Regions from separate parts of the Homo sapiens genome. Here all the other regions are linked to region 1. Evidence: fine-mapped expression QTL. A gene starts in region 1. Each other region holds a variant in brackets. All regions are shown on one strand. Distances are between the middles of the regions. Region 1 holds the start of NIBAN1 (niban apoptosis regulator 1). Region 2 overlaps NIBAN1 (niban apoptosis regulator 1). Region 3 overlaps NIBAN1 (niban apoptosis regulator 1).

Evidence for each region.
Region 2: its variant is fine-mapped to the expression of NIBAN1 in whole blood (INTERVAL, PIP 0.90).
Region 3: its variant is fine-mapped to the expression of NIBAN1 in blood mononuclear cells (TOPMed, PIP above 0.99).

Annotation. Positions count from the first base shown.
Region 1 is chr1:184,969,780-184,977,963 of GRCh38, reverse strand. NIBAN1 (niban apoptosis regulator 1) reads left to right here and starts at 3,456. Exons shown (of 14, transcript NM_052966.4): 1 at 3,456-3,662. The coding sequence starts at 3,608. RefSeq lists a silencer at 3,672-3,991 and an enhancer at 4,102-4,271.
Region 2 is chr1:184,883,895-184,892,078 of GRCh38, reverse strand. NIBAN1 (niban apoptosis regulator 1) reads left to right here. Exons shown (of 14, transcript NM_052966.4): 4 at 1,857-1,971; 5 at 7,279-7,446. Among named protein-coding and RNA genes, the nearest start is that of NIBAN1, 87 kb to the left of the region's middle. The variant A/G (reference allele first, on the strand shown) is at 4,073.
Region 3 is chr1:184,864,048-184,872,231 of GRCh38, reverse strand. All of the region lies in intron 5 of NIBAN1 (niban apoptosis regulator 1), which reads left to right. Among named protein-coding and RNA genes, the nearest start is that of NIBAN1, 110 kb to the left of the region's middle. The variant GT/T (reference allele first, on the strand shown) is at 3,698.

The DNA.
Region 1 (8,184 bases):
CGGTCTCCCAAAGTGCTGGGATTACAGGCGTGAGCCACTGCACCCCACCGGAACTTTTTAATAATAGCTCTCTAACTGGTATGAGATGGTATCTCATTGTGGTTTTGATTTGTATTTCTCTAATGATTAGTGATGTTGAGCATTTTTTCATATGCTTGTTGGCTGTGTATATGTCTTCTTTGGAAAAGTGTCTGCTTATGTCCTTTGCCCACTTTTTAATGGAGTTGTTTGTTTATTACTTGCTACTTTAAATTTCTTACAGATTCTGGATATTAGATCTCTGTTAGATGCATAGTTCACAAATATATTCTCCCATTCTCTGAGTTGTCTATTTACTCTGTTGATAGTTTCTTTTGCTGTGCAGAAGCTCTTTAGTCAAATCAGGTCCCATTTGTCAATTTTTGTTCTTGTTGCAACTGCTTTTCATGTCTTCATCATGAAATCTTTGCCAGTGCCTATGTCTAGAATGGTATTCCTAGATTTCTTCAAGAGTTTTTGTAGTTTTGGGTTTTACACTTAAGTCTTTAATCCATCTTGAGTTGATTTTTGTGTATGGTATAATATAAAGAATGGGTCCAGCCGGGCATGGTGGCTCACGCCTGTAATCCCAGCACTTTGAGAGGCCGAGGCGGGCGAATCATGAGGTCAAGAGATCGAGACCATCCTGGCCAAAATGGTGAAACCCCATCTCTATTAAAAATACAAAATTAGCTGGGTGTGGTGGCACACGCCTGTAGTCCCATCTACTCAGGAGGCTGAGGCAGGAGAATCCCTTGAACTCAAGAGGCAGAGGTTGCAGTGAGCCGAGGTAGCGGCACTGCACTCCAGCCTGGTGACAGAGCAAGACTCCGTCTAAAAAAAAAGAAAAAAGAAGGGGTCGAGTTTCAATCACCTGCATATGGCTAGCCAGTTATTCCAGCACCATTTATTGAATAGGGAGAGTCCTTTCCCCATTGCTTTTGTCAGCTTTGTTGAAGATCAGATGGTTGTAGGTGTGCACCTTTATTTCTGGTTTATTTCTCTATTCTGTTCCATTGGTCTATGTATCTGTTTTTGTCCAATATTTTTGGTATACTGTTTTTGTACCAGCATTATGCTGTTTTGGTGACTGTACCCTTCTAGTATAGTTTGAAGTCAGATCATGCCATGCCAACAGCTTTGTTCTTTTTGCTTAGGATTGCACTAGCTATTCAGGCTCTTTTTTAGTTTCATCTGAATTTTAGAATAGTTTTTTTCTAATTCTGTGAGGCATGTCTTTGGTAGTTTGATAGGAAGAGCTTTGAATCTGTACATTGCTCTGGGCAGTATGACCATTTTAACAATATTGATTCTTCTTATCTATGAGCATTGAATGTTTTTCCATTTGTTTGTGTGAATCCATCTTTGTACTCTGTTTCATCCGTGAATATTTACAAATGAGTGGATAAGGGTAGATGAGGATAATCAGTCCTTTCTCAGAGTATTCCTGAAGTAGAGGTGACAAGCTAAAACTACACTTCTGGCAGGAGATCCAAGCTAGTTTTCTTCAATAACAATAACAGTATTCTGAGGCACAGTTATAGCAATTTATATAGTCAAAGAAATTACTTCTCCAAGAAGATACACTTAATTCTAGGAGCCAACTAGAGTATTGAGAGAAGAGTTCAACACTAAATATTTTAAATCATTGAGTTGTTATCTGGAAATGCTTGAGATCACAGTTTTTGTTGAGTACAGATTTTTACATTTTATTTTTCATTCATTCACTTATTCAGTGGTTATCTACTGGACACCTACTACATGCTAGGTGCTCTTCTAGGCATTTGAAATACAGCAGAGGACAGAATAGACAAAAAAATCCCTGCCATAAGAGGAAAAATAATAATAAAAAAGGAAACAGAAATTTTGAGGGAAAAAGCCCCAAGAAACAACAATAACAACAAAGAAAATCCCTGATCTTATAGAGTTTACATCGCAGTGGGGGAAGATAGACAAAGAAATATGTGTTAGATGATACTAAGTGATATGAAACAGAAATAATGAAGAGCAAGTGGCAGAGAGAGGTGATGGCTGGTGTTCCTGGGTCAAGGAGAACCTCTCTGAATTACTAGCATTAAAGTGGAGGCTTGAATGAAATGACTGAGAGAGTAACCTATGTGAATATCTGAAGGAAGAGCATCCTACAGAAATGAAAAACAAGTGCAAAGGCCCTGAGCTTGATGTGTCTCAGAAAGAGTAAAAAAAAAGGCTAGTAGGGCTGGAACAGAGAGAACAAGGAGTGGTGGTAGAGAAGATCACAGAGGAAACTCCACCTAGGCCCTGATAGACGTCGTGGCTTTTCTCTGAAGAAGGTAGATCAGTTAGGCAGCTAGTGTAATGAATAAGGTGAGGAATGATATGGGATGTCAGTAGAGGGGATGAGAATTGGTTGGCTATTGGACATATTTAAAAGCTGAATTGACAGGATTTACTGACAGATTGGAATGTAGAGTGTGAGAGATTGGGTGTGAGTGTGATGAAATAATTGTGTTAAAGTGCAAGTTAGCTAATAGGGAAGGCGGGGGTGTGTGGGAAAGCCTTCAAAGTCCTCCTCAGGCCTGGTTCTAGTGTATACAGACCATTTGACCTTGAGGTTAAGTCAATAGGAGTCGCAAAATAACTGACTACTAAGAATAGGATGAAATCAGCGGTGACCCCTCTGCCCAAGTGGGTCTTGTTCCGAGAGGCTGCCAAGCTAAATAGTGGTTGTGGGAAAAGAACAAATATCTTTTCTAATGATTGATTTCCAGTTAAGGAGAGGAATGGAAAGTAAAGGGGTAAGGACAGACGTTCATCAAGTCTTAGGAAGTTTCAGGGCTGGGAGTATATTGCAGGACCAAGCCTTAGTTTTTCCCTGTCTTTCCATTTTTTTTTCTCTTTCCTTTTTTCCTCATTTCCCCACTCCCTCCTTGGTCCAGGTTCTCGCCTGCAGAAAGGTATAGTTTACCTCTAGTTCTCAAACTTCAGCGGGCATCAGAATTCCCTGGAGGGTTTGTGCAAACACAGATTGCTGGGCTCCACTCCCACAGATTCTAAGTGTGTGTGTGTCTGTGTGTGTGTAGAGGGGTGGTGGACGAAAGCGCTGAGATTTTGTATTTCTAACAGGCTCCCAGGTAATGCTTGGGAAGAACTGTTGCTTCTTGGACAGCAACACTTACAAGGCAACGTGATCTTGAGCTCCACCTCGAAGGATGTGAGCTGGGAAAGTTCCAGCTCACAGAGATTTAGTCACTTGAGAAATGGTCCACTTCCTCCAAGGTGTTTCTTGGATGCCCCAAAGGGATGAAAACAAGAAGTGACCGTGGGCGAGGAGGAGGAGCTGGCCGACCTCCTCGGTTGCCAGCCCGTCGGAGCTCACCAGCTAGGCGAGGGCGGGAAGACAGCCCCCGGGCCGGCCCACGGATCATCAGAAGGCGCGGACCTGGAGGAGGCGCCCCAGAAGGCGACGCCTCTTGCCTCCTGTCTCTCGCCTCTCGAAGGAAGTTTGCTCTTAATTTCAGAGCCGGGTTCGCCGTCGGATCAACCTCCAGGAGCTAGCAGCGGGCGCGGACCGGGCAGTTTCCGCGCTCAGCACAGGCAGCTCGCGGTCATGGGCGGCTCAGCCTCCAGCCAGCTGGACGAGGGCAAGTGCGCTTACATCCGAGGTACGCCCGCCCGCCCGGGGGCCTGGGGAGCACCCTGACCCGTGCACCAGGCTGGCTGCCGCGGTCGGGGCCCCAAGGGGCGCGCCCCGGGCCCTCTCCCTGTAGCGCGCGGGGATCCCCGACCGCAGCCCGCCCGCGCGAGTCGGGTTTCCTGCCCCAGCCGGCGCGCTCCGGCGCGGGTGTGGACCGGGGACCGGGAGGGCTTGGGAGCGAGGCAGGTGCAGGATGCGGGTGGGGACGCCGGCGCCTTCGCCGCTCCCGCCGCCTCGGGGTCAGTGCCGCCCCCGCCCGGCGCACTTCGCCCTCCAGTACCTGCCCTGGACTGAGTTCTGAGCGGTTTCTGAACTGGCCGCCAAGAGAGCAGCGGGGATATCCCGCGTTTCTAGAGATACCCCTGGGGATTCCCGGCAGCTAAAGCAGAATTTCCCTCTTAGTAATGTTGGCCTGGCTTTGGAAAGCGCGGCGTTGGCCGCAGCTTCGCTCGCACTTCATCCTAGCACTTGCAGGATGATTTCATCAGCGGCAAAAAGGACAATGTCATGCCGTTCCCTTCCCGCCCCGGAGAGGGGCGAAGCAAAAGAGGAACACTGGCGTGCTTTGTAACTGCCCGAAAGTTACAGATGGGGAGAAACTCATTTAGGGAGACCCTCAGAGATGTGGGGACTCAGTAGAGAGCGTGAGGCTGCAAAACAAACAAAACAAAACCCAAACCGAACTGAAACTGCAGGAAGTCCTGACTCGTTATCTCCTTTATTTCCTGGGCGTATTTGGCCTCCCCTCTTCTCACCCCCCACCCCAAACTTGCCTTCAACCGCTACCTAACATTTGGTTATCTTACCAATTTACTGTCTTTCCCCCGCCCCGCCGCCAGATCCCCCACCCTCGGCTTCAGAAATATCTTCCAGACTATGTATTAAACTCTAGGTTTATTTGGCCCTTGAATCCTTTCCTAAGAGGAAATCATTTATTTGGTGTTCTTATTCCACATTTGTTTTCAGTCACCACAACATTTAAGACCGTTTTAAAAAGATATCAAATCAGGGTACGTGAAGAGCAACGGAGCTGATTTTACAGATTCCTGCTCTGGTGCTTTTGGAGGTAAAAGATCCTCAACAACCTGTACTGTCAGGGGATAACACTTGGTCAAGTATCTCTTTGCTTTTGTTTGTTAAAGGGGAAAAGACGGATGATTTATTTATATTAGTAAAAGAGCTGAACTAAGCTTAAAAGAAATAAATGAAGCCTGCCTTAGTCTTAAAAATGTGGCTACATGCTTGTGTTACCAGTGTATAGGGACTGAAAGGGCAATCAACAGAACGTAGTGAGAAAGGGCTTGCATTTGAATGTTAGCAAAGTTGTGTTTAAGGCATTTATATAAGACTTTATTTCACTGGAAAGCTTAGGAGCACCTAATGTGGACGCATGGCCAAGTACACTAATCATTTGAAGTTAAGCAATGTGAAGGATTAACATGCTTAAAGAAGACTTCCTGGCCGTGCCATTTGTTGCTATTGATGCAAACATTGTACTCAGATAATAAGAAAATGCTATTAATTTCTTTATTCTGAAAGCTATTAAATTATTACATATACAAAAGTACGAGGGAGTTAGGGCAGATGAAGAACTTGTAATGCAAGTGTTTGAATGAGTAAACCTATAGCATATGGTGTGACAGTCATTACATTTCCCAGTCTTGTTCAGCTTTCTCTCTTCATTCTATATTCAGGAGGGCACTTGCAAGGTATGTGTAGTGGGAGAGGGAAGAGAAGAGTTAAAGTTAGAATACCTCCAGGGAAAAAGACTCATCACTTCATGTGAGAATGCTAGTCTTGCCAAAAGAGAAAAGAACCTTGGAAAAATGCATGGTGTTGTACATTGTTAGTGCATGAGCAAATGAGGGTCACAGGGCTGTGATTTCCTGATGGTTTTGAAGCCCAGGTTCCTGAGTAAAATCATAGCCCTATCTTTACCTCTTTGCCCATTTTTTAGCCTATAAATATTCTCAAGCTTTGATTCAATTGTAAGCAAAACGATTGGAAGTATGACAGTAAAGTTTAAATATACTTTTATGACCTGTTTCTCATAAAGTAGCCATCAGTGAAATATAGATTTGAAAGCTCCTGAAGCTGAGACAATAACTTTCTTTTAAGCTTGATAAACTTTGCTAACAAGGAGAGTAGCTAGTCAATATATTTTGAGTGACTTTTGTTAACTTTATTTTGTATGCATCATAAACCGCTGTATGCTACTGACGCTGAATCAGCCTTTACTTTAAGACAAATCATTTAACAGCTGCCATTCCTTGTGTGCCTCAAAACATCTGTGTCATATGGATGTTTTGAAAATACATTGTTTCTTAGGATTTAGTTAATCTTCAGGTAAAGATATATCATCTACGTTAAGGAGTTACTTCATTTCTAAAGATGTTAGTTTGGGAAATTACGGCAATGCTCATGTTTCTTACAACAGAATAAATTTTTAGGATTGTTTCTAGAAGCCTTTCAGTAGTGTCCCTTGATAAGATGTTTCTATTAATAAATAATACTGAGACCAACTTGTGATCACATGAGCTGTGTCATATGTTAGTCTTAAGTGATGCTTTTAGCACTGACCTAAAATGATCCTTTTTTTTTGAGACAGAGTCTCACTCTGTCACCAAGCTGGAGTGTAGTGGCACGATCTCGGATCACTGCAACCTCTGACTCCCTGGTCCAAGTGATTCTCCTGCCTCAGCCTCCCGAATAGCTAGGATTACAGCCACGCACCACCATGCCCAGCTAATTTTTGTATTTTTAGTAGAGACGGGGTTTCACCATGTGGGCCAGGATGGCTTCGATCTCCTGACCTTGTGATCTGCCTGCCTCGGCCTCCCAAAGTGCTGGGATTATAGGCATGAGATACCGTGCCCAGCCAATCTTTTTTTTAATGAGGAAGAAAGCTCATAGATTCCAGGCATCAGTGATCAGTTTGGGTGCTCTTCTCTCTTTATGCCATGTTTTCTTTTCTTTTCTTTTTTTAGTTTTCTGAGATAGGGTCTCACTCTGTTACGCAGGCTGAGTGCAGTGGTACAATCACTGTGAGCCTTGACCTCCCCTGGCTCAGGTGATCCTCCCACCTCAGCCTCCTGAGTAGCTGAAACTGCAGGTGTGTGCCACCACGCCCAGCTAATTGTATTTTTTGTAGAGATGGGATTTTGCCATGTTGCCCAGGCAGGTCTCAAACTTCTGGGCTCAAGCAGTCTTCCCGCCTTGGCCTCCCAAAGTGCTGGGATTACAGGCATGAGTCACCATGCCCGGCCTCTTTTTCTGTAAAGCTTTTGGTATGCATGAAATTAAACTATAGCTTAAAAAAAAACCCCAAAACAAAACCAAAAAACCCCCCACACTGTGTTTTCCTGTTTATGCAATAATTTTATTTCCTTCTAAAAATTACCCTTGAATTTTTAACGAATCAAAAAGAAAGCAAACCTGAAAGATCTCCCACATAAGAAGTCCTGTGGAGGGTCAGAAAAGTACTGGACAGTCAGTGCCGCAGCTGAAAACCATGGGATAAACAGATCCTAGTGGGCACTTGCAGGCCTGCCAGCAGCAAATACCAGTTAGGAAAACTGTTTTCCCCCACTGGATTTATTATTGCATAGTCAGTTACATAATATATAAAGGGCCCAGTGGCTTCCTCCAAAAGCTTCTCAATGATCTGATGCTTATAAAATAAGAAATGAGTTTCAGCTTTAAAATAGCACATATTTTTCTCAGGGAAGTTCCCTCTTATTTATACAAGGGTTAACTTAGGTGGCTAGATACAAAGTTTAAAGTGATGTGTCTAGAATGAAGTCTCCATGGGCAAGGTGGAGGATGGGGAGAGCTGTACACATCTGTAGTCTACTTAGTGTGGATGTGTCGTACTAGTCCACACATTTGCTTCTTCGGTCATAATTTGTTGGTGGGAGATGGGCATAAGAACTGGTCTGACTTAACCTGAATATTTTTGGTAGTGTGATCTTAGAGTCCAAGTTGGCTAGTAATGGCAATATACTATGATGAGAAAGTTAGGAAATGCATTATGGTAGACACCGTGGTATGTCAACCCAACATCTTTTTCCCACTCCTCCATTTTTTTTTTTTTTTTTTTTGAGACAGGGTCTCACTCTGTCACCCAGACTAGAGTGCAGTGGGACAGTCATGGCTCACTGCAGCCTCGACCTCCCTGGGCTCAAGCGATCCTCCCACCTCACCCTCCTTAGTAGCTGGGGGTACAGGCATGTGCCACCATGCCCAGGTAGTTTTTTTGTATTTTTTTGTAGAGACGGGGTTTCGCCATGTTTCCCAGGCTAATCTCAAACTCCTGAGCTCAAGTGAGCCACCTGCCTTGGCCTCCTAAAGTTCTGGGATTACAGGCATGAGCCTCTGTGCCCAGCCCCCATTCCTTTTTCTAACAGAACTCCAGTTTTGTTCAGGCATTAAAACTCCTGGCCAGGTTTGGTGGCTCACACCTGTAATCCCGGCACTTTGGGAGGCTGAAG
Region 2 (8,184 bases), 86 kb after region 1:
TCATTTTGAATCAAATGTTGGTGTTTTTCCTCTTTTCACTTATTTCAGCTTGCTCTCTCAGCTTGCAGTTTGTACATTGCACTGCTTTTTCTTTGTTCATCGTTTTTAACTGAACCTGTTCAAATTGTTAAGATATGGTGACTTAATTTGGTAATAACCAAGTGTTTTTTGAAACTTGGAATTCTTTTAAAGTCCACGCAGTTTGTCATAATTTCTTGAAGTTTTAATAATATCTTCTTTTTTTAATTTATGGAAGTATCTTATAAAATTATATCTAAGAATTATGCATTAAGTACCTGTAAGTCATCTATTATTTTATTTAGAGTCCAATTCTGGCTGGCAATTAAACAGGAAAAGTAAAACATTCTCACTTGATAATCAGTTTCTATTTTGTGTGCACTGGGGCTGGACAGGCATGAATATAAATCCTGGATGTGTCACCTACTCACTGCTGGGCCATGGGCAAGTTATTCAGTCTCTTTGAGCTTCATGTTTCCCATTTGAAAAATGGAGATAACATGTAATGCATAGTACTGTTTTGAGGATTAAGTGGTATAATGCTTATAAAAGCCAATATTGGGGCCTGTTATAACTAGTAATACAATTCACTTTTGAGTCCAGTCTAAATCAAATTGCTTGTAAATCTTCTTAATATCATACAAGTTTAGATTCTTCTCTCAACATTATTGTTTCACTATAATGTAGCTCTGTGGGAGTTCTTAGAGCTGTAAGGTATTATTTCATGGGGAGCCCTCAATTATGTATAGATCCTCCTTCCTGGGTTAATCATTTATTCAGAAGAGTCCTCCAATCGTCTTTCTTAGGATGAATAGGTCAGGCTGCCAGAATTCTGTGTTAGTGGGTATATTCTGGTTCCCTCACATGCTTAAGCAGTTGATTAGTCGTTGTTACAAGTAATTTAGATATCTGAGAGTTTGTTTCATTTGGATCTCTTCACTATCTTATTGCTGCAGAACGTGTTATCGTTACTCTGATTATGTTGGTCAGATCAACATTATTTAGTCATTTCCAAGAGTAAATTCTAGATTTTGGGTCTCAAACTTTCTTAGTTTCAATTCTCAACTTGCCTTTAGATTACTAGTTTCAGAATTTTGCCTTGACTTAAGCCCTCCCGTCAGATGCACATACTTAAATGTTATCTTATCTGCATGTCCTTGTGGGCATAGGTGCTTACCAAACTGCTTTGGCAATGCCCTGTGCCTCTTTTCTGTGTCTCAAATAGCAGAGCTTCTTGTCTGCTGGCCAGCATTTGTTCTGATGTCACAGTGCTGTACTTCCATCTCAACCATTTTGCTGCAAAACAGTTTCACATCTGAGGGCAAAATAGTGGCATATTTTATGCCAACATTTTCATGTTTTGATGAAAATCCATGGTAACTATCATTGCAGCTACGTGTTCCACAGTCTCATTAGTCATCCTATGTGGCCCACATCAGTCACCAAGCATTCTGTGCAGTATTTGTGTGATCGTCACCTTTGTGGTTATTATCAGAATGATTTAGTTGTTAGCATCTGAAATGGCAAATGTGGTGCAGACTTTCAGGGTTACTGAGATTATGTTTTCCACATTCGAGAACATACCTAGGGTAAATCTCCCTGAGATTAGGGACTCTGATTTACCATGTTGTGACTGTCACATGAAAGTATTAAAATATTACCTTGCCATTAGCAGGTATTCAAAACATATTTTTTGAGTAAATGACTATAACTCAATAACATAGTATGGGGATTGCTATCTCTGAATGTCTGAATCTGTCTATTTGTTATATCCCTGATATTTTCCAAAAATCAAATGGGGAAAAAGATATCATTCCTGTGTGCCTTTCCCTCCCCAGGCCTATCAGAGAGGAGCTGCTCCTAAATGTCGAATTCTTCCAGCCGGTGGCAAGGTGTTAACCTCAGAAGATGAATATAATCTGTTGTCTGACAGGCATTTCCCAGACCCTCTTGGTGAGTTGCTGATCATTCTTTTCCAAGGCAAAATGACTAAGCTTCTTTGTTTAGCTGGAGCAGTGTTTCTCTGTGAAGGAGAGGGATTTCCCTCCAGGGACATTTGGCAGCATCTGGAGACATTTTTGTTTGTCACAATTGGAATCGGGGTGCTATGGCATTTAGTGAATAGAGGCCAGGGATGCTACAAAACATCCTACCATGCACAGGACAGACCCTAACAAGGAAGAGTTATCTGGTACAAAGTATCAGTAGTGCCAAGGTTGAGAAACCCTGGGCTAGTCACTCATGTCCCATAGACAAGTGGAAGATGTGATTTCTCTAGTTGAGGAAAACATTTTACCACTTCCATTATTTCTAATCCCATTCAATAATACACAGTCAGTCTCTGTGTTTCTAGCACATGGAAAATGTGCTGTCAGCCAGGTATCTTGAAGCTTTTGGAATATATTGCAGGCTTTGATAGCACTCCACAAGGCAGCAGAAATAAACAGGTAGGGCCCAGTCCATGAAATATACAATCCCATCTTCTAGTAAGCAAGCCTGGACCTGTCAGGGAATACTATTTTTCTAATTTTAGGATGATATGCAACTAAATACCCTAAATAGACAAAAAACCTTTTAATAAGTGTTACAGTAACTCATAGCTACTGTGAAAAAAAAAAGCATTGCATTAATTTGCATATCTATAAATAAAGCTGGGATGCTGCCATGGAAAGATAATTGGGAGATTGGATTTTTATCTAGTTCTGGCTGTGCCACTTACCAAATGCTTTAGCTTAGCCGGCTGCTGAACAGCTCTGGTTTCTGTTTCTCCAACTCAAAAACAGGGCTTTGAACTTAAAAACCTAGAAGGGTCTTTCTAGGTCTAACCTTCTTTGATTCTCATTCATTCCACTTTTTACATGTGGAGAAATGATGGATAATATATAGACTAAATAAGGCAATTCATAGAGATTCATGAAGTGTGGATAATGTAATAACTCCATTTGGCTTTGCATAAATCATACTACATAGTAATTACTTGGTTCTTGAAGAGAGCCCTGGTTCTTATTAACGGACATAATAATTTCATTAGAATTTATGGAGAAAAACATAATCATTTTATCAATTGTTATTTCGGTGCTGAGTGCTTAACATAGTGTTTTTAATAACACAATTACAGGATTGGTACATGGACCATAAACTAAGATTAACAAATTATTACTAAGTAATTCATGCTAAAACAACACTTTATGTGCACTATGCATATTATTATATTTTCTTTTACATCTACTTATATGCCCTTGGCAGTGGAGCTGCAGCTAGAAATGGGAATACCAACATGTTGACTCATCCAAATCTCTCTAAAACTTTCCAATGAAATCAGCCAGAAGAGACAATATGTTTATTGATTTATTGCTGTAATCATATTGGAGGGAATGAAAAGGACTAAAAAACACAAGTCCTGTGTGATTAATCCCAGTTGGCCCAAGGCTTCAGATTGGGGCATTTTAATGACTTTTTAAAATTGTGTGTTGTGACCTTCTGACTTTTAAAATAGAATATTCTACAGTAGATCAGTTGTGATATTCTTGTAACTCAGAAAAAATTCACTGATGGCATCTGGAAAATTGTTGTAAAAGGTTGAGAGATAACTAGAGGCTAAAAGGAATGAATTTTATGGGTTTGTTGAGGCTTTTTAAATGCAAAGGATCAATGTTGCTTTTGGTTGCTTGTACAAAATTATGACATTCTTGGAGAGGGCAAGGAGGATTGTTTGATAGAACCATGTCAGTCAAGAAGACTGACTCTGTGATATTATTTCTACCAGAAAGAATAAAGGCATAATAAAGATGGGATGCTTATGAATAAGTGCATTTCTTGGAAAAAGCACTAGAGGCTTATGAATAAGTGCATTTCTTTTTCTTTTTTCTTTTGAGACAGAGTCTCACTCTGTTGCCCAGGCTGGAATGCAGTGATGTGATCATGGCTCACTGTAGCCTCGACCTCCTGGGCTCAAGTAATCCTCCCACCTCAGACTCTCGAGTTGCTGGGACCACAGCTACATGCCACTATGCCCAGAAAAACAAAACAAGCAAAAAAACAAACAAAGAACTGC[A/G]GAGACAATGGTCTCACTCTGTTACCCAAGTTGGTCTTCAACTCCTGAGCTCAAGTGACCCTCCTGCCTTGGCCTCCCAAAGTGCTGGGATTATAGGCATAAGCCACCATGCCTGGCCAATAAGTGTATTCTTTACAGAGTGTTCAGCTAAGTTGATACAGAAAAAAATGCCCCCGTGTTTTGTTAAAGTAATTCACTTGTTTGGCATTTTACTGGTTAGAATCTCATTTACTGCATACAATAAAAAACTCAAAGTTTTATTATCTCACTAAAGATATTTCGATATTAGTTCAGGGCTGGTGTGGACTAAATTTGTCTGAAGCTCAGGCTCTTTCTTGCTTTCTCCCCCTTTATTTCTAGGTTGTGGCCCCTTTTGGCAGGGTCCAGGGTGGCTGCTGAGCTCCTACCATAGCATTCTCATTCCAGATAATAGGGAGGAGAAAAGGAAAGGAGGAGGGTACATTCACTTTCTTTAGAGATACCTCCAGGAAGTTTCATATGCCACTTCAGCTTATATCTTACTGGACAGATCTTAGTAGCTGTGGGCTCACCAAGCTGCAAAGGAGGCTGGAAATGTAGTCTTATTTTATGTAGTCACTTGCCCAACTAAAAATCAGGGGCCTTATTCTCCCCAGAAAGGGAAATAGATACTGTGTTACAACTACAGGTGTCTCTATAGCATTCAATCATTCATTCATTTGCTCGTTTTCATGTTGATTCATTCCCAGCATTGTGCTAGGTCCTGGTGGGCCATGGCTTGTGCTGGTGGTGCATTCTCCTCTGTTACCTTCAGATTCCAGGACACTGGAACAGGGCTCCCATATATCCCCAGAAATTTATTCTTTATTTAAACCAATACGGATTGATTGATTGACTGATTGATTTTGAGATGGAGTTTCGCTCTGTCACCCAGGCTGGAGTGCAGTGGCATGATCTCGGCTCACTGCAACCTCTGCCTCCCGGGTTCAAGTGATTCTCCTGCCTCAGCCTCCTGAATAGCTGGGATTACAGGTGCATGCCACCACTCCCGGCTAATTTTTGTATTTTTAGTAGAGATGGGTTTTCACTATGTTGGTCAGGCTGGTCTTGAACTCCTGACCTCATGATCTACCCTCCTTGGCCTCCCAAAGTGCTGGGATTACAGGCATGAGCAATCCTGATTTATTAATTTGCCAGAACTGATGCGGTTCTGTAGACTCCCATGTGGTCATGATTCATTTCCTTGTATTCCCAGTGCTTTCAATGGCCTCTTAGAGAGACCTTCTTCCTTACCTTTCCCTGAGATTGGTGCTTAATACATATGCAGGAAGCACAGAACTAACATTTTCTTCTGCTTATTTTCTGTGACTCTGGAAAAAGTTGGAACTCATTTAACCAAGTGCAATATCATGTAATAGGAATGCATGGAAAGGAGTAAAGTTTAGGTAGGGGTTCTGAATAGTAGTCGGTTTAAAATGAGTTGCTTGGAATTGATTTTGAGGGAAGAGGTAAAAGTCCCATTGTCTAGGGCTTTAAAAAAATATCCTAGGCCAACAAAGCACATTTTTCACTCAACAAACTGAAGTTGAACATCTGCTATGTTCCATGACTGTGCTGTGGGCTAAGGATACAAAGCTATGGAAGATGCAGTCTGCATCTCTAGACGTTCACAGTGGGTAGCAGTGGTTCTGCTCCTTGCGGAGGGGAACAGCACGGGAATCCATCTCATTCCCCTCCCCCGCCTCCCTACCCTGAGTGTGGGCGCTGGGCATGAAAACAGGTCATTGCAGTATTTGGGGAGAACAGGGTAGGAAGCACCTAACTCTGTCTCTGGTGGCAGTGGGATGTGCCAGCAAAGGCATCCCAGAGGAGTGGCTTTTGAACTGACTTTTGAAGGATGAATGAGAATTTTTTTATGGGAAAGCATGATGGAAAGGAGGGAAGAGAGGGTTCTATGGACTGTAGGAACAATATAAAAAGTCACGGAATGGGTGAACACACCCTGGGAGGGTACAGACTGAGAGTGGAGGGGAAGCCAGCACAGAACAGGGCAGGCACCGATGCTTAGCGAGGAGATGGAGAGAGTCAGCAGAGGAACCAATAAAGGTGATAAAGAAGAAACAAAATTCTACAAAGCATGAAGGAAACCAGGAGAGAGGCACTCCTGGAAGTCATGGGGAGATAATGTTTTCAAAAGAAGGGGTTGTTAGCAGCAGCAAATATTCCAGGTCAGATGAAAAGAAGCAGCCATAGGCTGGCAGTCAGGATGACATAAATGGCTTCAGCAGTTGGGTTTCAGGAGCTGGTGGGGACAGGAATCAGACTGAGGTGAGAATAAGGTTGATGGCATAAAAACAGCAAGTGGTGTTTGGCAGTGACAGGGAGGAGGGAGAGAGTGCAGGGCAGAGAGCTGCCCTGTTGGAGCTGGAGCCTGCAGGGCCAGTAGAGTGAGGGGGTGCACAGGTTGTCAGTGGCCTGCAGAGGGGCAGGAGGGCAGAGGAAGCTCCGTTTGTGGGTCTTTAGACATAAGGAAGTTGAGAAAGATTGTGCCCAGGCTGGGCGCGGTGGCTCATGCCTGTAATCCCAGCACTTTGGGAGGCAAAGTCAGGTGGCTCGCTTGAGCTCAGGAGTTTGAGATCAGCCTGGGCAACATGGCAAAACCCTGTCTCTACAAATAATACAAAAAAACTAGCCGGGTGCGGTGGCTTATGCCTGTAATCCCAGCTACTCGAGAGGCTGAGGCGGGCAGATCACTTGAGGTCAGGAGCCTGGCCAACAAGGTGAAACCCTGTCTCTACTAAAAAGACAAAAATTAGCTGGAGGTGGTGGTATGCGCCTATAATCCCAGCTACTCAGGAGGCTGAGGCAGGAGAATCATTTGAATCTGGGAGGTGGAGGTTGCAGTGAGCAAAGATTGTGCCACTGTACTCCAGCCTGGGTGACAGAGCGAGACTCTGTCTCAAAAAAGAGAAAAAATTGTGTTCCTGGTATCCTCACTGTCCCTGTGATGTTGGGTAGGAGGCCAGGCAGACCGCAGTGGGACAGGGGAAGCTGGTGGAGGGATGCCAGAGGAGCCAGTGCTCCCAGTTTCCCTATCCTGTGAAAATATCTCACCAACTTTCCATCCCATGGCCTGCCCCAGATAGTCACCCTCACGACCTGAAACACACATTTGAAATAAAAGATACATGTTTTAAAAGGTATTTGTGTTTTCAATATTTCTTTAGCCTCCAGTGAGAAGGAGAACACTCAGCCCTTTGTGGTCCTGCCCAAGGAATTCCCAGTGTACCTGTGGCAGCCCTTCTTCAGACACGGCTACTTCTGCTTCCACGAGGCTGCTGACCAGAAGAGGTTTAGTGCCCTCCTGAGTGACTGCGTCAGGCATCTCAATCATGGTATGGCGCGGCTCCCCTCTCATCCCCGGGGCGGGAAGTGGGGCAGCCCTCGCTGAGTTGTTCTGGTCCATCATCTATTGCAGTGATTCTTAGAAAGAGCCACAGATGAGCCAAGTGCGGTGGCTCATGCCTGTAATCCCAGCACTTTGGGAAGCTGAGGCCAGCAAATCACAAGGTCAGGAGTTCGAGACCAGCCTGACCAATATGGTGAAATCCCATCTCTACTAAAAATACAAAAAAATATAGCTGGACGTGGTGGTGGGCACCTGTAATCCCAGCTACTTGGGAGGCTGAGGCAGGAGAATTACTTGAACCCGGGAGGCAGAGGCTGTGGTGAGCCGAGATCGCGCCACTGCACTCCAGCCCAGATGACAGTGCAAGACTCCATCTCAAAAAAAAAAAAAAAAAAAAAAAAAAGAGCCACAGATGGTGCTGCCCAGGGAAGAAGAGGGAAACAGGTAAAGGGAGAGTTCTGTGCACAAGGAGCCTCACCTGCTTGCTGGTTTTCAGGCAGGCCTGGGAGGCCCCGGTGAAGCAGAACATGGGGCAGTTATCTGGCTGCAAGTTGGGGGGTGTCACATTCTGACTGTCCTGAGTTTATTCATGTAGACCATTTTGCATATACTTCACTCTCCTTCTTCCTGATTTAAAAAAATCTAAATGCCAGCAAGAACATGCCAGTTTTCCCTGGCAAATGCTAGTCTTTTTGACATTTCCTTTTTATTTTCACCTTTATTT
Region 3 (8,184 bases), 110 kb after region 1:
TCTAATCTGGTCATTTAAAATAATCTCTTTTTACTTATATTTCCAATTTTTAAAAATATTTTTAAACATGTCAAACAATATATTTTATATTCCGTGTTTGCTAATTTTAATATCCAAGATCCCTGTGGGTTGTATTCTGCTGTTATTTGTGCTGGCTCTTACTCATGGTACCTTATTAACTTGCTTATTTTGTGATTTTTTTGATGATGAGTTCATATTTCACTGAAGCCAGTTGAAGGTGAGTTCCTGAGAGGATTTGTGTTTCCTCTTACTAGATGCTTGAGGACACTACCAGATATTTGGACCATGTAGCTAATGTGCATTTAGGCCATAAAGATTGTGGGGACATCCTTCTGATTATGATTTCTCAAGAGAAATATTTATCTCTTTCACTCAATGCCTAGGTTTGAGACAGACAATTTTCCTTAGAATGGGCTAAGACCGTGTGTATGTGGGTGGTTTCTGCAATTTAATTTGGCACATTATATGCATTGGTTCTTTGATTCTGGTATTCAGCATCCTGGGAGGCTAGAAAAAGGTAGCTTAAGGTCACTAGGTTCTATCAGTGTCTTCAAAGTGAAAACTAGCTTCAAGACTTGCCTTATGTTTTTGGGTTTTGTATTAGTTTGCTAGGGCTGTTGTAACAAAACACCTCAAACTTAGTGACTTAAACACCAGAAGTGTATTGTCTCAAAGTTCAAAATCCAGATGATGGCAGGGTTGGTTCCTTCTGAGGGCAATGAGAAAAGGATCCATTCCAGGCTTCTCTCCTTGGCTTATATAAGCATCACTCTGATCCATGCCTTCATCCTCCCATGACATTTTCCCTATGTATGTGTCTGTGTCCACATTTTCCTCTTTTTTTTTTTTTTTTTTTTTTTTTTGAGATAGAGTTTTGATCTTGTAACCCAGGCTGGAGTGTAATGACATGATCTCAGCTCATTGCACCCTCCACCTCCCAGGTTCAAGTGATTCTCCAGCCTCAGCCTCCCAAGCAGCTGGGATTACAGGCACACACCACCATGCTTGGCTAATTTTTGTATTTTTAGTAGAGACGGGGTTTCACCATGTTGGCCAGGCTAGTCTTGAACTCCTGACCTCAGGTGATTTGCCCACCTTGGCCTCCCAAAATACTGGGATTACAGGCATGAGCCACTGCACCCAGCTAGCACATTTTCCTCTTTTATAAGGACACCAGTCATATTGGATTGGGGGCTTATCCTATTCCAGAATGATCTCATCTAAACTAATTACATATGCAATGACCGTATTTCCAAACAAGGACACTTTCTGAGATTTGGGGGAATCAAGATTTCAACGTATGAATTTGGGGGGTATACAATTCAATCTATAACAGGTCTTACGTTGTTGCCAGTTCATTGAGGTATTCAAAAGAACTTTTGGAAGTGCAATTTATCCACTATGTCTTTTCTTCAGTAAGAGGGTTGGTTACGGTATAGAGTATGCTATGCTGCTGAACACCATAGGTTTTTGCATGGTGTTAACAAAAATTGTATGATGTTGAAAAGTTAACTGTCACTAAGGCAGTTTTACAAAGGCTGCTTCCATCTTTGGAGCAACCATTCATTTTGCAGCTCTGTCGCATTATCCTTGAGGTTCTGAGGCTGCACATTTACCACCTTGACCTTGCGGGAAATGACTCAAAAGCCACCTTCTTGGGCTATATATTTGCCACCTTGACAGCGGGGGAAATGACTCAAAAGCTAAACCTGACGTTCAGAACTTTTTCGAGTTGTAGAGCCATTTTAGGGATCCATGTTTCAGTCAACTCTGTTGAATGCTCCCGGCAACTATAGCACATATCAATCATAACAATAATAAACAAACCTCAGTCATCAAGAGTAAATTATATCCTACGTGTTATGTGTTAGATGATAGAGAAATGTGGAATACATTTTAGGAAGCTTTCTATCAAAGAGAGTTTAAACCTTTCCCATGTATAAAGGATTAGCTCTTAGCTCTGAAGACTTTGCTTAATCAGAAGATATTACTCATTTAAGGTTATTTAAAGATAAAAACTTTTAGCATATTGTAATCTATCAACCACTGCTTCTGAATGACTTGGTGTGGAATCAGAGTTGGGGGGAAGAGACTTTTAAAATTTCAGAGTCCCTGGCATTATTCCAGACCTACGAATTAGAATCTCTGAGGAAAGGAGCCCAGAAACGTACATTTTAAACAGCATCCCTTCAGAGTTAGAGAATCGTTGTTGCCTAGGGTCTTCCTTTTAAACATAAGGTATTTTGCTTCAGCAACTTAATTTTTATTTTTCTCAAATTGTATTACTGGTAAAGATTCATGATTTTTATAATATGAATTTAATGTTTGAAGTGATATTCAACAGCACAATAAAAAAGTGGTGAATGGTGGGCCGAGCGCAGTGGCTCACGCCCGTAATCCTAGCACGTTGGGAGGCCAAGGTGGGTGGGTCATTTGAGGTCAGGAGTTTGAGACTAGCCTGGCCAACATGGTGAAAACCCATCTCTACTAAAAATACAAAAATTAGCCGGGCATGGTGGCGCACAACTGTAATCCCAGCTACTCAGGAGGCTGAGGCAGGAGAATCGCTTGAACATGGGAGGTGGAGTTGCAGTGAGCCGAGATGGAGCCACTGCACTCCGGCTTGGGAAACAGAGTGAAACTCTGTCTCAAAAAAAAAAAAAGTAGTGAATGCAAATAAAAGTAGTGAATGGTCACAATGTGCTTAGCAATTGTAAGATAAAATTAAACTCTTTATAATATTTTAGTGAGAGGACCACAACTAGACTCTTCATGGGATTTCCTTTTTGAAAATAATCCTGAATCTAATAGCAAGCACAACTGAGATACATTTTCTTTACTGAGTTTTGCATTTCCAGTGTGACCCTTTCGCTTTTTATACTGGACGATCTAATTTTACGTAAGAGCTCACTCTGGTAAGCTGTACCGTGTGTAGGTGTACATGGATGATCTCCACTAGTAAGATAAAATACCTCTCTTCTCTTCTACTTTTATCCCCTTCTTCTGTCCGAGTGAGAGGCAATGTACCACCTTTCCCTTAGACATGACCATAAAATCCCAGAGGAAAGCAATATGCCTAAAATTATTTAGTCTGTTTCCCTTGCTTGAATATGCACTGGAATTCCCTGGCCTGGGGTGGGTCCTAAGAATTTGCATTTCTGACATGTTCTCAGGTAATGCTGATGCTGATACTACTGGCCTGGGGACCCTACTTGGAAAGCCACTGTATTAACTCATTTAATCCTCACAGCAGTCCTGTGAGGTAGGCACTATTATTGTCATCATGCCCATTTTATAGACGAGGGTTCTGGGGCAGCTGGTAAGACAGCTGGTGATCAGGACAAGATTTTAAAGCCAAGCAGGCCGACTTCAAGCCCGTGTTCTAAACTACTGTACCATGTGTCTTCTCAGTCAGCAGGTACTTATTAAACGCATACTGTGTGCCCTGTGTTTGACTAGCTGATATTTTTAAAAAAAATCTAATCTCATTCCTTATTCAGGAACAGATGATTTGAGGATACTCACTTCCTACTGAACTTGACATGGATAATTTCTTGATATCTACTTGAGAGGGACATGAGCTGCTACATCAATTGAAACTCAGGTGACAATTGAGATGCAGAAGTTAAGTCTTTTCTCTGCTTTTAAACATGAAGTTGTGCCTTAACCCAAAAGG[GT/T]GTTCCTGTGGTAAACTGTGTACTCTATAAATGTTCTCCAAAGCTAGAATTTTCTTGGTTTATGCAAATGTACAGCTGAGAATAATTTTGTGGGATATGTTGCAGGGGTGGGGTTGAAAAATTCATGGTACTTATCTATTACCAGTTCTTTGTGTTTTAAGTACTTAGCCTTTATTTTTTTTTCCTTTCAGCATTTTCTTTTGTTAACTGGATTCCCATACTGGCTGTTGCTGAGGGGGTTGGGGAAGTCCTGATCTGACCTGAATTTTTTAAAACAATTTTTTAGCATTTTCTTTTGGAGACCACAAATCATATTGCAAGTCAACAACGTCTGGGTGTTAGTGGGACATTTCTATTTTAAGAGGCTTAGAAAAGGAGGTAAAAAAGAAGGAAGTTGGAAGTTAGGAAGGAGCAATGAAAGCAAAGCACCCATTTTCACATCTTACCAGACAAAGCCCCTCCCTGCCAAGTTCCTTTCTGGTGGGAGATCAGGGCATGGCTCATGCAATCACCAGCTAAGAAAGGAACTGAGACTTCTCTTCATTTGTTGTTTTTTCCTTCCCCACCTTTCCCTAGAAACTATTAGACTGCCACACTGTCCCGTTGTGTGACACGGGACACTTTAAGTGACGGGGTAGACAAAAGCTGGAACAAAAGAGCCTCTATTAAGGTAAGGGTCTACTGTGTCCAGAACATTGTCTTAGATGCTGGGGGCAAAACAAACCGAAAACACAGTCATTGCTTATAAACCAAACTCAATTTGTAAGGCTATCCCACTCAGTTAACAGAGGAGAGTTTGAGGATGATTTCCTCCTGACTTTCCAGGATAAGTGGAATAAAAGAAATAGAAAATAGATCAGGAACATCATTTTGCCTCATTCCATCTCACTTTAAGTGAACTCGGGCCCAAGCCCAAGTGGTTCTGTTCCAGGAAACACGGTGGGTCAAGCAGGATGTAACCTTATCACACACCTTAGCCATTGTCCTTTCCTTCTTAAATCCCTAGTGAGGAGGATAATAGTTGAAGATATCCTTCTTTTTTTCTTCTCCAGGCTTTAGGATATCAGATTAGGTATTTTCAAGTTGAGAACAAAAAGCCTTACCACAAAGTTGTATTCTCCTTGTGCCAATAATAATGAGTCATTCTTGCTAAGAACATAGGTGGTTTGTATCTTTCTAGTGCTTCTTGTCAGAAGAAGCTTAACATGCACAGAGGGAGATATTTTTCCTGGCACAATAGACCCTAGTCACAAACCACAAAGTTTTGCAATAAGGCTATTCGTTAAGTGAATGCAATATTATAGCTGAGACACTTTTGGGGTGTGTGTGTGTGTGTGTTTGTGTGTAGGGGTGTGTGTGTGTGAGAGAGAGAGAGAGAGAGACCGAGAGAGAGTGTCTGTGTGTGATGGGGGCTATACCTCAGCTTCCTGTTTGGCCTTGCTGATGTCACCGCATTAGTATCGGTACTGCACTTCAGATTTTTGTACAGATGTAAGTCATCATATTTAGTATTTGACTTTAAAATGAATTGGTTTTTGCACATCTGTGCTCATAAATGAATAACAATAGAAGGGGGAAGAAATTTTGAATTTTGATTAGATGAAAGGGGTGCAAAACTTCCACTCTTTCTTTCATAGATACCTTGCAAGCCAAAAGCTTTCTAGAATTGCTAGGTGAAGTTCTAAATATCACTAATTTTGAGATAGGCTGATTGACATTTATGATTGGGTTTGGTCAGGATGAAGGGTAGTGAAATTACCAGCATAGATGAGTGAGTTGCCATTGGTCTAAATTTTGCCATCTCTGGTTTTCTTCTGATTTCTAGTTCCATATTTGGTGGCTTTAAATGAACACAGTACTGTTCTCTTCATACCATGTATATTTTTTACCAGGTCAGGAATCTAAGAAACTTATGATCTAATTTAGATGTCTCTGGAAATGTGAATTTCATAACTTAAGAGAAGGGAACAGATTTGAAATTGAAATATTATTATAGGGAGCTGACAGTTGGGTTAAGTGGATTGTTACACATTATCATCTTAAAATTACATTTCGTGTCTTCTTAACTTTCCTCCAAAGAACACATCCTAGAATTATAACACTATTTTCAATTCCCTCTGCATCTTTCAGCCCTTAGAACTAAATCCTAAGCCAATAGCTCACTTTTGGACTCCTAAATTTGATTTTCTGAAGGCCTTAGGTTAAATGTCATTTCCACCAGAACACCTTTCTTAATCTTTCAGGTAGGTGAAAGCCCCACAATTTTCTTCTATCTGTCCATTCATCTGTCCTTCCTTCTCTCGTACCTGTCCTTACTTCCATCACAGTTCTAATCACATCATGTCATCATTGACTATTTATTTATCTGACTCCTAAAACTAGGAGTTCCTAGAAGCCAAGTCTATGCCCATCTACTATTACATCTCAGCCATTAGTACTGAGTGTAGGGGTGTAGTAAGCACATACTCATTTTTTTTTAACTGAATAAAGGAGCATGGGAAGTAGGTCATCATTTGAAAAAGCATCTGGAAATGATAAGAATAGTTAATAAAGCATTCCGGATTGTTTAGGAGAAAGGTCTATTTTACTTGTTAACAGCAAAGGCAATTTCTTTGGAAGATTTTGCTTTCTTTTTTGACTATCTGTGCAGTTACTTGTTTATTTTTCATTTTCCATCAGCTTTACAACTTTTTTTCTCATGCTCCTCATCGCCTACTATCATTTGTGTTTAAGCCTTCCTTTACATAAAACAGTATTTTTGGCTTATTATTTGGATGATTAATGAAAATCAATCTTAGCAGTTAGATTTCTGACTGAGACTGACCAGACAAAGTGAAATGTGTTGCATGATGCCATTATTTAAGTCACTGTTTTGTTGGCTGTGACCCATTAAGCATCCTTTCTTTTTGTTTAAAAATTATTTTTTTTCAGCTTGTTTTAGATTTGGGGGTACGTGTGCAGATTTGTTACATTGGTATACTGTGTGATGCTGAGGTTTGGGGTATGAATGGTCTCGTTACCCAAGTACTGAGCATAGTATACAATAGTTAGGTTTTTCAACTCTGTACCCTTCCCCCACCTCTATAGTCCCGTGTATTGTTGCCATCTATATGTCCATTGGTACTCAATGTGTGGCTCCCACTTATAAGTGAGAACATGAGGTATTTGGTTTTCTGCTCCTGTGTTAATTTGCTTATAATGGCCTTCAGCTTCCTCCATGTTGCTACAAAGGACATGATTTTGTTCTTTTTTTAATAGCTGTGTAGTATCCCATTGTGTATATATACCACATTTTCTTTGCCCAGCCCACTGTTGATGGGCACCAAGGCTGATTCCAGACTGCTTTCCACAGTGGCTGAACTAACTTACATTCCTATCTACCATGTATAAGCATTCCCTTTTCTCTGCACCTCACCAGCATCTGTTATTTTTTGACTTTTTAGTAATAGCCATTCTGACTGGTGTGAGATGGTATCACATTGTGATTTTGATTTGCATTTCTCTGATGATTAGTGATACTGAGCATTCTTTTTTTTTTTTTTTTTGACCTCTTTAGTTTTATATTGTTTCAGCTAAAACCTGTGATGAGGTCATTCTTAGTGAACTACTTATAACTAGTTAGTTCTTATAAATGCTGCCAATGTTTTTTTTTTCTTTTATTATTATTATACTTTAAGTTTTAGGGTACATATGCATTCTTAAAATATGTTTGTTGGCCGTTTGTATGTCTTCTTCTGAGAATTGTCTATTCATGTCTTTTGCCCATTTTTAATGCGATTATTTGTTTTTTGCTTGTTCAATTAAGTTCCTTAAAGGTTCTGAATATTAGACCTTTGTTAGATGTCTAGTTTGTGAATAAAATATTATTTTTTAATGCATCTATTTTCATTTTACGTATTTTTTTTTACAGTCACCTTGGTGACTGTAACACTTACCATCACTTTTGAAGAAGTGACTTAACAAAAGAACCCAAACAACATTTCTTCACCTCTGCAGACTCTTCCTCTCACAATGAAGTGGCTTCCGTTACTGGAATAATGTCAGGGAAGATAACAGCTTCCTCTAAATTCACCCTATTCAAATGTGTAATTCACACTTGTTCACAGACTAGAATAATGTACCTATAAAGTGTTTATTGGCTGTTATATAGCTCCTAGAGGAAGAAAATAAAAATGAAATGGTTTGTACGTTATAGTTTGTCAGAAGTATGATTGCCAATTATAATGATAAAATACTAATGATAGCTCACATTGCTAATATTTATTGAGCACTTACCGTGTGCCAAGCACTGTGTGAAGGCTGACAACAATCCTTTTAGTTAAACAGCATTATTGTCCGTAGGAAACCAAGATTTAGATAGCTAAAGGAGATTGCCTAGAGGTAGGCAGTTATCAAGTGGTGGACTCAGAATTCAATCCTGAATGTTTAACTCCAAAGCTCAAGCTCGTAATTGTTGTGTATTAAAGAGCCTGACAACTAAAGGATT